Linked DNA regions of Homo sapiens: region 2 is linked to region 1. Evidence: fine-mapped expression QTL. A gene starts in region 1. The other region holds a variant in brackets. All regions are shown on one strand. Distances are from middle to middle.

The links. PIP is the estimated chance that this variant, and not a neighbour inherited with it, causes the effect.
Region 2: its variant is the best candidate, but not a certain one, in a credible set for the expression of FBXO7 in tibial nerve (GTEx, PIP 0.84).

Annotation. Positions count from the first base shown.
Region 1 is chr22:32,471,585-32,476,962 of GRCh38, reverse strand. It overlaps FBXO7 (F-box protein 7), which reads right to left and starts at 2,152. Exons shown (of 9, transcript NM_012179.4): 1 at 1,839-2,152. The coding sequence starts at 1,960. RefSeq lists enhancers at 1,636-1,805, 1,391-1,891, 2,060-2,229, 1,892-2,392, 3,118-3,177 and silencers at 1,562-1,871, 1,882-2,071.
Region 2 is chr22:32,505,439-32,510,816 of GRCh38, reverse strand. SYN3 (synapsin III) reads left to right here. Exons shown (of 14, transcript NM_003490.4): 14 at 1-2,997. Among named protein-coding and RNA genes, the nearest start is that of FBXO7, 33 kb to the right of the region's middle. The variant C/T (reference allele first, on the strand shown) is at 2,154.

The sequences.
Region 1 (5,378 bases):
ATCTGTTTGCAGAAAAGGTCATGGTCCGCTTAATAAATATACCAGCTCTTCCTCCCACTTTAGAAAAAGGGAAAAGCTATTTCTAAAGTAATATATAGTTTTCCAGGATTCTACCTCTGAAATTGGGGCGTTAAGAGGAGTATTTAATTCCAGGAAATGAAATTCTAGAAACTCCAGCCTTCTTAGAAGTATTTCATGGCAGCTCTGCCTATGGAGTAGCCATTCTTTTATTCCTTTACTTTCTTAATAAACTTGCTTTCACTTTTCTCTTAAAAAACAAAAACAAAACAAATAAAAGCATTTCATGACAATCCTAGCTCCACTTGCTCAGTAAAGATATTTTTAAAATAATATCACATGGACATATTTTAAAACTGCACCTTTATTAGAAAATGAGTATACTTTCAGAAAAAATGAGTTTACTTTCACAAGCTGAAGCTTAAATTCTGTCCAGGTAACCAGCCTCAACTGTAAAAAGAAATCTGAAAGAGAAACCAACGTGCCCTTTTGGGCAGTCATATTGAGTTTCACGTCCTTTCAAGACTGCCTAATTTAAAAATAATAAAATATATATATACTTGGTAATACCTTTAAAAAATAAGTTTGAAGATTTATTCAATCTTCTACTCGTAACCTACTGGTAACGATGCCAGTATGTAAAACACACAGGTTTAACAACAAGAAATAACAGTAGGCATGTCACTTACTATAATGTTTAAAAGGAGTTATGTCAGTATCTTATTTAGGGTTTTTTTTTTAATCAGGAAGAAAACAGGCTTACTTTCAATCTAATAATGTCTTAACCAGGAAAATGAAAGGGCGAGAAGTTCAGAATAACGGCCTCATTTTACCCAATTCCCTAAAAATAAGGTGAAAACGTAGGAAGGTTTGCTTTTGTTTTGAAGAATTCACCTAAAAATCCCCAGGGAACATCTTTTTCATTTTTCCTTAGCACACTCAAGTTTCAAATTCACTAGCTCAGTATTTGAAGAGGACCACTCTTACCTTGCCGCTTTACTCCCAAATTATTGTCCCCAAAAAGTATCTTTTAGGGAAACAAAGCAGCTTCACCTGCAGTCCCACAAACCAATAACAGAATATGATCCTTTCTCAACTTTACTGCCCCCAAACTGCAAGCTCTCAAGATCAACGTTTGCCTCAGTTTTAGCAAAAAAGCAACATTTCACCCAAGAAAATGAAATGGTCTGAAACACGCCTACACGCTGTCCTTTCTAAAACTTTTCGGCGGCGAAGTCCAAGCGCTCACCGCGGTGCTCGGCGCATGAACACAACAGAATCTAAAATTGTTGCCGCTTCACAGCAGCGATACAAGCTACCGGTGGCCTCGGATTGAGGGCAGATTTTTAACTTCTAGCAATTTCCAAACTTTTTCATTGAAATACTCCAACAGCTGAAGAAATTAACTCGGACCCCTCACAGTCCAGAAAGGTTTAACCCAAGCCAAGCTCATCATTTCCAACTTGAAATCTAACCAGTTGTGGAAATTGTGCGTTCCCTCCTCTCCCTGGTTCCGTTTACTGCAAAACCAGAAGCCATGACTCACCGAGGAGGGGACCAGAGCCCCCGGGAGGCCGGGCCATGTTCTCCAGGAGCCGGACCCCAGCCGACCACCCGCGCTTCCCGTCGCCTGCACCCTCCGGCTCCGCGACGCCCGGAAGAGCCCGGGCCTCCCGTGAAGGCCCCCCCGGCGTCCCCGCACTTGGCCTATCGCCCGGCCACGCCCGCGCCTGCAGCCCACAGATGACGCCAACCCGCCCTGCACCCACCCCAAGCACTCCCCACTCCCCGCGGGCCGCCCAGCCCCGGCCCCAGCGTACCTGTACCCCCAGGTGCACAGCAGGGACTGCCTCAGGTGCGAGCGCAAATGCCCCAGCGTCGGCTCCGTCTCGGGCACCTCCAGCGGCCAGGTCCGCTTCAGAAGCCGCACCCGCAGCCTCATGACGGCGGCAGGCGGCCCGAGGGGCCTGGACCCGGAAGCGGCGACGGGGACGGCGGCGGGGCCGAGCAGCTCCCGCCCCAAACGGCGACGACCCCGGACTGGCGACTACCGGAGCTGAGGGGTAGCTGAGGCGAAACGGGGAAAGAGCCCCGCCACAGTGGCCGCCCTGCCACTCGGTCTCTGGAATAGAGCGCCCGCCCCTCTCCTGAGGGCGCCTCCTGGAGCCGACCCCGAGAGCTGGAGGCGGGCAGGCGGCCTAAAGGAACCGGGCCTCTCGGGGTCGGCCGATCGATGACTCCGCGCGCAACGGCGCTGCCTGAGAGCGCGGGCACAGTGCGCAGGCGCCGAGATGCGGCCGCTCGCTGGCATCCCAGATTTTCCGCGGCGGTGGCTGGGACTCCCAGTACTTACTCCCTGTGTGCGTGGAACAACGGTAGCGCTGATAGGGATGCTGCAGACAGACAATACAGTCGCCACTCCCCAGGACCAAGTGTCACCCCCTTTCTTCCGTGGCCCTCAGTTCCAGCGGCATCTGCTCTGAGAAGCCTTAGGTTAATCCTTAGGTTGGCCGGGCGCGGTGGCTCACGCCTGTAATCCCAGCACTTTGGGAGGCCGAGGCGGGTGGATCGTTTGAGCCCAGGAGTTCGAGACCAGCCTGGGCAACATGGTGAAACCCCCCCCCCCATCTCTACAAAAAATACAAAAAATTAGGTGTGGTGGCGCCTGCCTGTAGTCCCAGCTAGTTGGGTGGCTGAGGCGGGAGGGTCGATTGAGCCCGGAGGTCGAGGCCTCAATGAGCTGTGATCGCACCACTGCACCTCAGCCTGGTTCCACAGAACGAGACCCTGTCTCAAAAAAAAAGTAGAACTATTTGTAGCCAGTAATCTATGTCCGACAGTTTATTAGAACTCTGTGGCTGCATAACAATCACCCCAAAGTTTAACGCAATAAACATTTGTTGTCCCACAGGTTTTAGAGGTAAAGGGATTTGGGGATGCGTGGCTGGGTGGTTCTGTCTCCAGGTCTCCCATGAGATTACAAACTGTAGGCCAGGGCAGCAGTTATTGACTAGGGCTGGAGGATCGGCCTCCAGGATGGCACAGTCATGACTGTTGGCCAGAGACCTGTTTTCACCACGTGAACCTCCCCATAGGGCTGTTTGAGTGTCCCCATGACATGGCAGCTGGCTTCCTTCAGAGCAGGTGATCCCAGAGAGACCAAGGTATAAGCCACAATGTCTTTTATGACCTAGCTCCAGAGGTCACATACGGCTTTTGTCATATTTACAAACCAACCCTATGTGTGAGAGGATCCAGCCAAAGGTATGAATGCCAACAGACAGGGATCGCTGCGGGCCATCCTGGAGGCTGGCTACCATAGAGGGTCTAACTAATGATAACTTAGATGAGAGAGAGTATCAAGTTTCGTCCTTGTGTGATAACCATAGTCCAAATCCTTAGAGTCAAATAAAGTTTCTCCCAATAGGTGGCAGCACTTGTCCACATCCTGCCCTTGATTCTGCAAATAAATATGTATTGATTGCCTACTTTGTGACAGATACCCCACATGCTGGAGACTCAAGAGACCAAAAAGACATGTTTCTGCCCATGCAAAGTTTACAGTTGAGTGAATCAGCTCTTTCAGTAGAGTGTAAAAAGTCTCTGCTTTATGATAGACATAAATACAGACCTGAGGAATGGGATTGTTAGAAATGTTTGTTTTTTGATGTTGTAAAGAAATAGCACTTGAATATAAATTTAATTTTTTTAGCAAGGCCATTTTTATTTTTTGTAGAAAGGGTATACTCGCCAGCAGTTTTGTCACGAGAGTACACCGAACAAAGGAGACAGGGTCATATATAACCTGATGTGTCCACTTTACTGCTGTGTCTGGTTTTTTGTTTGTTTTTGTTTTTTTTTGTTGTTGTTGTTGTTTGAGATGGAGTCGCGCTCTGTCGCCCAGGCTGGAGTGCAGTGGCGTGATCTCGGCTCACTGCAAGCTCCGCCTCCTGGGTTCACGCCATTCTCCTGCCTCAGCCTCCCGAGTAGCTGGGACTACAGGCACCCGCCACCACACCTGGCTAATTTTTGTATTATTATTATTATTATTATTATTATTATTATTATTATTATTTTATTATTATTTTAGTGGAGATGGGGTTTCACCGTGTTAGCCAGGATGGTCTCGATCTCCTGACCTGATCCGCCCGCCTCGGCCTCCCAAAGTGCTGGGATTACAGGCGTGAGCCACCGCGCCTGGCCTGTGTCTGGTTTTTATTGGCTGGAATGGGACTTTATATTTTGTATTTGTCTTGATTGGCTAGTAATTTAGAACTTTTTAAAAGAGGCAAAGGCAGAGGAGAACAAAGCAAGGAGGAAGTAACTTGTGGAATGTTGAGAAAGGTCAACACCCCTTTAAGGAAGAGGAATAGGCTATGACTTAATGTTTGTTTGAACTAGTATAAATATGTTAGGGCAAATATTTAGGCTAAATTGTGGGAGTTAAGATTGTAAAGTACATTGATTTTTTTATTATGGCTAGCAGATATTTAAGAATGTTAGCATGGGTGTTTGAATACATTTTGGTTTTAAGAGGGTACATAGAGGAGGTTTGCCATGCCCGTAGGATTCTTTAGTAGTGAGCAGTGAGGAATGGTGCCAGGACCAGGATGACTCTGTGTGACCAGAGTGATGGACAGCATAGGTACATCCCAGATAAAGAAGAGCCTTGGGCTAAGCACAGGGTTTGGGACATATTCTAGAATGTATGGGAAGCCGCTAGACAGTTTTTAGCAGGGAGTCTTTACTATCAGGGTTCTTAATTTTCAGCAGTAGAAGCTGACTCTGGCTGACTAAGCAGAAAAGGTGTGTATTAAAAGGATGCTGTACAGCTCAGGGAATTCTAGGGAGGATGGAGAAGTGGCCCCAGGCTAAGCTTCCAAGAATGAAGCTCAGAACCAAGCTGAAAACTGGCCTGATGAGGAAAATACTAAGACTGGGATTGCTGCTGGAGGAAATCGCCATCACAACTGCTGGGATTCACTGGGGAATGGCTGCCACTGCCACTGTTAACATCAAATCCCACATGCTTTTGCAGCCTCCTGCATAATGCCAAACTTCCAAAAGAGCCTGTTTCTTCACCTTGCTCACTTCCACATCAAAAGCTCATAGGGATGTCTGATTGAGGAAGTCTGGGCCCCACACCTGGGTCCTGGCTACAAAGGAGACTGGGAATTGGGGTCTGAACTCCTTCCTCGGGGAGGCAAGACGTAGAATATTGGAATTTCCTCCCGAAAAAGGGAAGGCTATTCAAAAGATGGTGGGAAGCCTTGAATCTGACAGGTGTATACTAACTACTAGGGCAGGCTCAGATCTGTAATGTGAATCTATCACTAGGGATTATGATAGGATGTGGGGGA
Region 2 (5,378 bases), 34 kb before region 1:
CCAGCCTCTCAGACTGGAAGGTTCCTGGGCCCTTCCCCCTTCTTTCCTGACAAGGGCAGGTGAGGTTCCCCCATTAGAAGGATCTGGGGCACTGCTTATAAGAGCAGCCTGTTACAAGATTCAAGCACAGAGAGCTATAGGAGTTGAAGTTTGGTTTCTTCCACTTAAAAAAATATATATCCACCCTCCTTACTCAGGGGTAGACCTTTCAAATATTAATAAATAATGCTGTGTGACATCCTGAATAAACGGGTAAGAGAAAACTTGTAGGGCAGGGTGTAACCATGAGGTCCTCAAGTTTCAGGAGATTAAGAACACAGGAAACCCCTGTGGCAATCGTCCCTCTTCAACAATCTCACCCAGTTTTCACTTAGTAATAAAAGACAGCTCAAAACATACAACTGAATGGTAATAGGCTGGACAAAGTTTCTCAACCTGTGGGCCACGGCCATGGGCAGAGCTAGTTACAAAGGCAGATGAAGCTTCATGTCGGACTAAAGGAGTCCGAATTTCTGGTCACAGGACCCAGAACCTGCATCTTTGTCAATCTCCCCACTTTGAATGCACTTTGATGTGAGACCAGCAAACCTGAGCTGGGCTCTGTGGGAAAGCCACTGCATGAGAAACAGTACTGCTACGGGTGTGCTGCAGTCTCCAACGCAGCTACGAACCCACTCCTTTAGTGAGTGAAACTAGTGGCCCCGTGAACAATGACCACATGGCCTAAATTCTCCCATATTCCTATATTCTGTCCTTTGGCCTCAGACACACCTCAGCATCCAAAGGATATCTCCCAGATACTCCAGTATCTGTGTACAACAGCCGCAGAACCTCCTTCCAAGCTCCAAATCAGGCCAGGCATCCTGATTTTTATAACCATACTCATATATCCAGATCCATGACATAACACTAGTTTATAGCCAACACATTTAAATAATTTCCCCACTGGGGCCAGGCGCAGTGGCTCACATCAGTAATCCCAGCACTTTGGGAGGCCGAGGTGGGCGGATGACTAGGTCAGGAGATCGAGACCATCCTGGCTAACACGGTGAAACCCCATCTCTACTAAAAATATAAAAAATTAGCCGGGCGTGGTAGCGGGCGCCTGTAGTCCCAGCTACTAGGGAGGCTGAGGCAGGAGAATGGCGTGAACCCGGGAGGCGGAGCTTGCAGTGAGCCGAGATCGCACCACTGCACTCCAGCCTGGGCAACAGAGTGAGACTCTGTCTCAAAATAATAATAATAATAATAATAATACTTTCCCCATTGGTCTGTGTATGAACATAGGAACCAAGGACACATAGGTCTCATGGCGACCCTAAAATAGTCTGTTCTGTCACATAGACTAGTACCTGTTCCTTCCAAACATGTAACCTTTAATAATTGTGACATTTTGAAATGGGAAAGGGCAAAAAGGAGGGAGAGGGGAGTCATGCTGTATAGACTCTAAAATGTTATGTTTGTTGTTTTTCTTGCTTTGTTTCACAACTTTGAGCCAGAGAGAGGCTAGCATTTTCCCTCCAAGCTGACTCGGGGAAGCTGAAACACAACAAAGACCTATTTGATTTGTTCACAATGAACAGGGATTTAAAAACGCAGCCTTAGCGGACAGCTCTACCAGCCACAGAAAAGTTCTTCCAGATCTTCCTCCCGTCAGCGCGATAAAATGGTACCGTACTTTGGTTAAATGTAAAATCAGCTTTCCAGGAACAGTGGCATATCCTTTCTCTTCCATCAGTTCCCTAGATTCTCTTCATTACTACATTCTCTAGCCTAACATTCCGTCCCTGCTGAATTAACTAATATTCAGATACATTCAAGATAGAACTAACACTCAATTCTATCTTTCCAAAATTTAAGGGGATGATAGGTCTTCACTCACATGGTAACAAACACAGCAGCAAACCCCATAAAACTGAACATCAACTGCCTTCTGGAAGTTCTCATCTGGCAAGCTAGTGCAGGTATCTTGTGCATGGGTCAAGAGAGTGAAGCTCAGAGCACATTGCTTGGCACCCAGCAGGTGTTCAGGACATGTTTTAGCTCAGCCCTCCTAGAAAACTATGAAATAAAATCCAAACAAAAGTATTAAGATTGAAGTAAAAAGATGTTTTTCTAAGAGTATCAATATATGGAAGTCACTTGCCCAGGAA[C/T]AGAATCAAACAAACCAAAACCCAGTAAAATGAGATAGAGAAAAGAAGCGGAAGAAGATCAATGGCAGGTTTTCAACCTCAAAAAGACCTCTTCCAAACTGAATCTGAAGAGGAATGGGAGGAGGCAGAATGAGAACATGAGACCTCTCCTTGGGGCCCCTTTCATGCGCGTCTGTGTGAAGAGACCACTAAACAGGCTTTGTGTGAGCAACATGGCTGTTTATTTCACCTGGGTGCAGGCCGGATGAGTCCGAAAAGAGAGTCAGCAAAGGGAGTAGGGATGGGGCCGTTTTATAGGATTTGGGAAGGTAATGGAAAATTACATGCAAAGGGGGTTGTTCTCTGGTGGGCAGGGGCGGGGGTCACAAGGTGCTCAGTGCGGGAGCTTCTGAGCCAGAAGAAGGAAATTTACAGGGTTAATCACTCAGTTAAGGTGGGGCAGGAACAAATCACAATGGTGGAATGTCATCAGTTAAGGCGGGGCAGGGCCTTTTCACTTCTTTTGTGATTCTTCAGTTACTTCAGGCCATCTGGGCGTATACGCGCAAGTCACAGGGGATGCGATGGCTTGGCTTGGGCTCAGAGGCCTGACATTCCTGCCTTCTTATATTAATAAGAAAAATAAAACAAAATAGTGTTGAAGTGTTGGGGCGACGAAAATTTTTGGGGGGTGGTATGGAGAGAGAATGGGCGATGTTTCTCAGGGCTGCTTCGAGTGGGATTAGGGGCGGCGTGGGAACCTAGAGTGGGAGAGATTAAGCTGAAGGGAGGTCTCGTGGTAAGGGGTGATATTGTGGGGATGTTAGAAGAAACATTTGTTGTGTAGAATGATTGGTGACGGCCTGGATATGGTTTTGTATGAATTGAAAAACTAAATGGAATAAGAAGGAGAAAAACAGGTATAAAAGGTCTAAGAATTGGGAGGACCTAGGACATCTGATTAGAGAGTGCCTAAGGAGATTCAGCATAGTCCTGCCAGCAAAGATTATTTATTTACTTCAAGAGTTAAAAGTGGCAGTTTGGGGATAGCACGAGGAGATATCAGCTGTGATGGCTTGGAGAAACAGTGTAAACTGGCAGTGTAAACAAGAGCAGGGCATGTATGAGTAGTTGAGAACGGAGAATAGGAGTATGACTAGACAGAAGATAGTAGGGATGACAAGTTTTTTTTGGGGGCACAGTCTAAGTTGGTCTGGTGTCTGGAATGAGACTGGGGCCTAATAAAAAGGAGCATCTATACAGGAGCTTAAATGGGCTGTACCTTGTAGCATTCTGAGGACAGGCCTGAATTCTGAGAAGCGAAAGTGGTAAAAGTATTGTCCAGTCCTTTTTAAGTTGGTGGCTGAGCTTGGTGAGGTGTGTTTTTAAAAGACCTTTAGTCCGTTCTACTTTTCTTGAAGATAGAGGACCGTAAGGGATATAAAGGTTTCACTGAATACTAAGAGCCTGAAAAACTAATTGGCTGATTTGACTAATAAAGGCTGGTCTGCTATCAGACTGTATAGAGGTGGGAAGGCTAAACTGAGGAATTATGTCTGACAGAAGGGAAGAAATGACTGTGGTGGCCTTCTCAGACCCTGTAGGAAACGCCTTTACTTATTCAGTGAAAGTGTCTATTTAGACTAAGAGGTATTTTAGTTTCCTGACTCGGGCATGTTGAGTAAAGCTAATTTGCCAGTCCTGGGTGGGGGCAAATCCTGGAGCTTGATGTGTAGGGAAGGGAGGGGGCCTGAATAATCCCTGAGGAGTAGTAGAATAGCAGATGAAACACTGAGAAGTTATTTCCTTGAGGATAGATTTCCACGATGGAAAGGAAATGAGAGGTTCTGAGAGGTGGGCTAGTGGCTTGTACTATAGCATAGCCTGGCTTTGCTGGTGTGTGGCGATTAGGCCTGGTGGAACTGCCATCAAAAAATCAAGCGTGATCAGGGTGAGGAACAGGAAAGAAGGAAATATGGGGAAATGGGGTGAGTATCAGGTGGATCAGAGAGATACAGTCATGGGGGTCAGGTGTGGTATCAGGAATAATGTGGGAGGCCAGATTGAAGTCCCGGCCAGGAACAATGGTAATTGTGGGACTTAACAAAGAGTGAGTACAGCTGAAGGAGCCGGGGAGCAGAAAGTATATGCGTCAGGTATGAGGAAGAAAATAGATTTTGGAAGTTATGAGAAATGTAGAGAGTGAGTTGAGCATAGTTTGTGATTTTTAGGGCCTCTAAAAGTATTAAAGCAGCGGCAGCCGCTGCACGCAGACATGAGGGCTAGGCTAAAACAGTAAGGTCAAGTTGTTTGGACAGAAAGGCTGCAGGACGCAGTCCTGGCTCTTGTGTAAGAATTCTGACCGCACTAACCATGCCTAGGAAGGAAAGGAGTTGTTATTTTGTAAGGGATTGAGGTTTGGGAGATTAATCGGACACGATCAGCAGGGAAAGCACGTGTGTTTTTATGAGAATTATGCCGAGATAGGTAACAGATGAGGATGAAATTTGGGCTTGACTGAAGTAATGGGGGCTGTCTATGAAGTCTTGCAGTAGTACAGCCTAGGTAATTTGCTGAGCCTAATGGGTGTCAGGGTCAGTCTAAGTGAAAGCAAAGAGAGGCTGGGACGAGGGGTGCAGGGGAATAGTGAAGAAAGCATCTTTACGATCAAGCACGGAATAGTGAGTTGTGGAGGGAGGTATTGAGGACAAAAGAGTGTACGGGTTGGGCCCCACAGGGGGGATAGGCAAAACAATTTGGTTGATACGGTGCAGATCCTGAACTAACTTGTAAGGCTTGTCTGGTTTTAGGACAGGTAAAATAGGGGAATTGTAAGGAGAGTTTATAGGCTTTAAAAGGCCATGCTGTAGCAGGCGAGTGATAACAGGCTTTAATCCTTTTAAAGCGTGCTGCGGGATGGGATATTGGCGTTGAGTGGGGTAAGGGTGATTAGGTTTTAATGAGATGGTAAGGGGTGCACGATCGGTCGCCAAGGAGGGAGTAGAGGTATCTTATACTTGTGGGCTAAGGTGGGGGGATACAAGAGGAGGACGCAAAGGAGGCTTTGGATTGGGAAGAAGGGCGGCAATGAGATATAGATGTAGTCCAGGAATAGTCAGGGAAGCAGATAATTTAGTTAAAGTGTCTCAGCCTAATAAGGGAACTGGGCAGGTGGGGATAACTAAAAAGGAGTGCTTAAAAGAGTATTGTCTAAGTTGGCACCAGAGTTGGGGAGTTTTAAGAGGT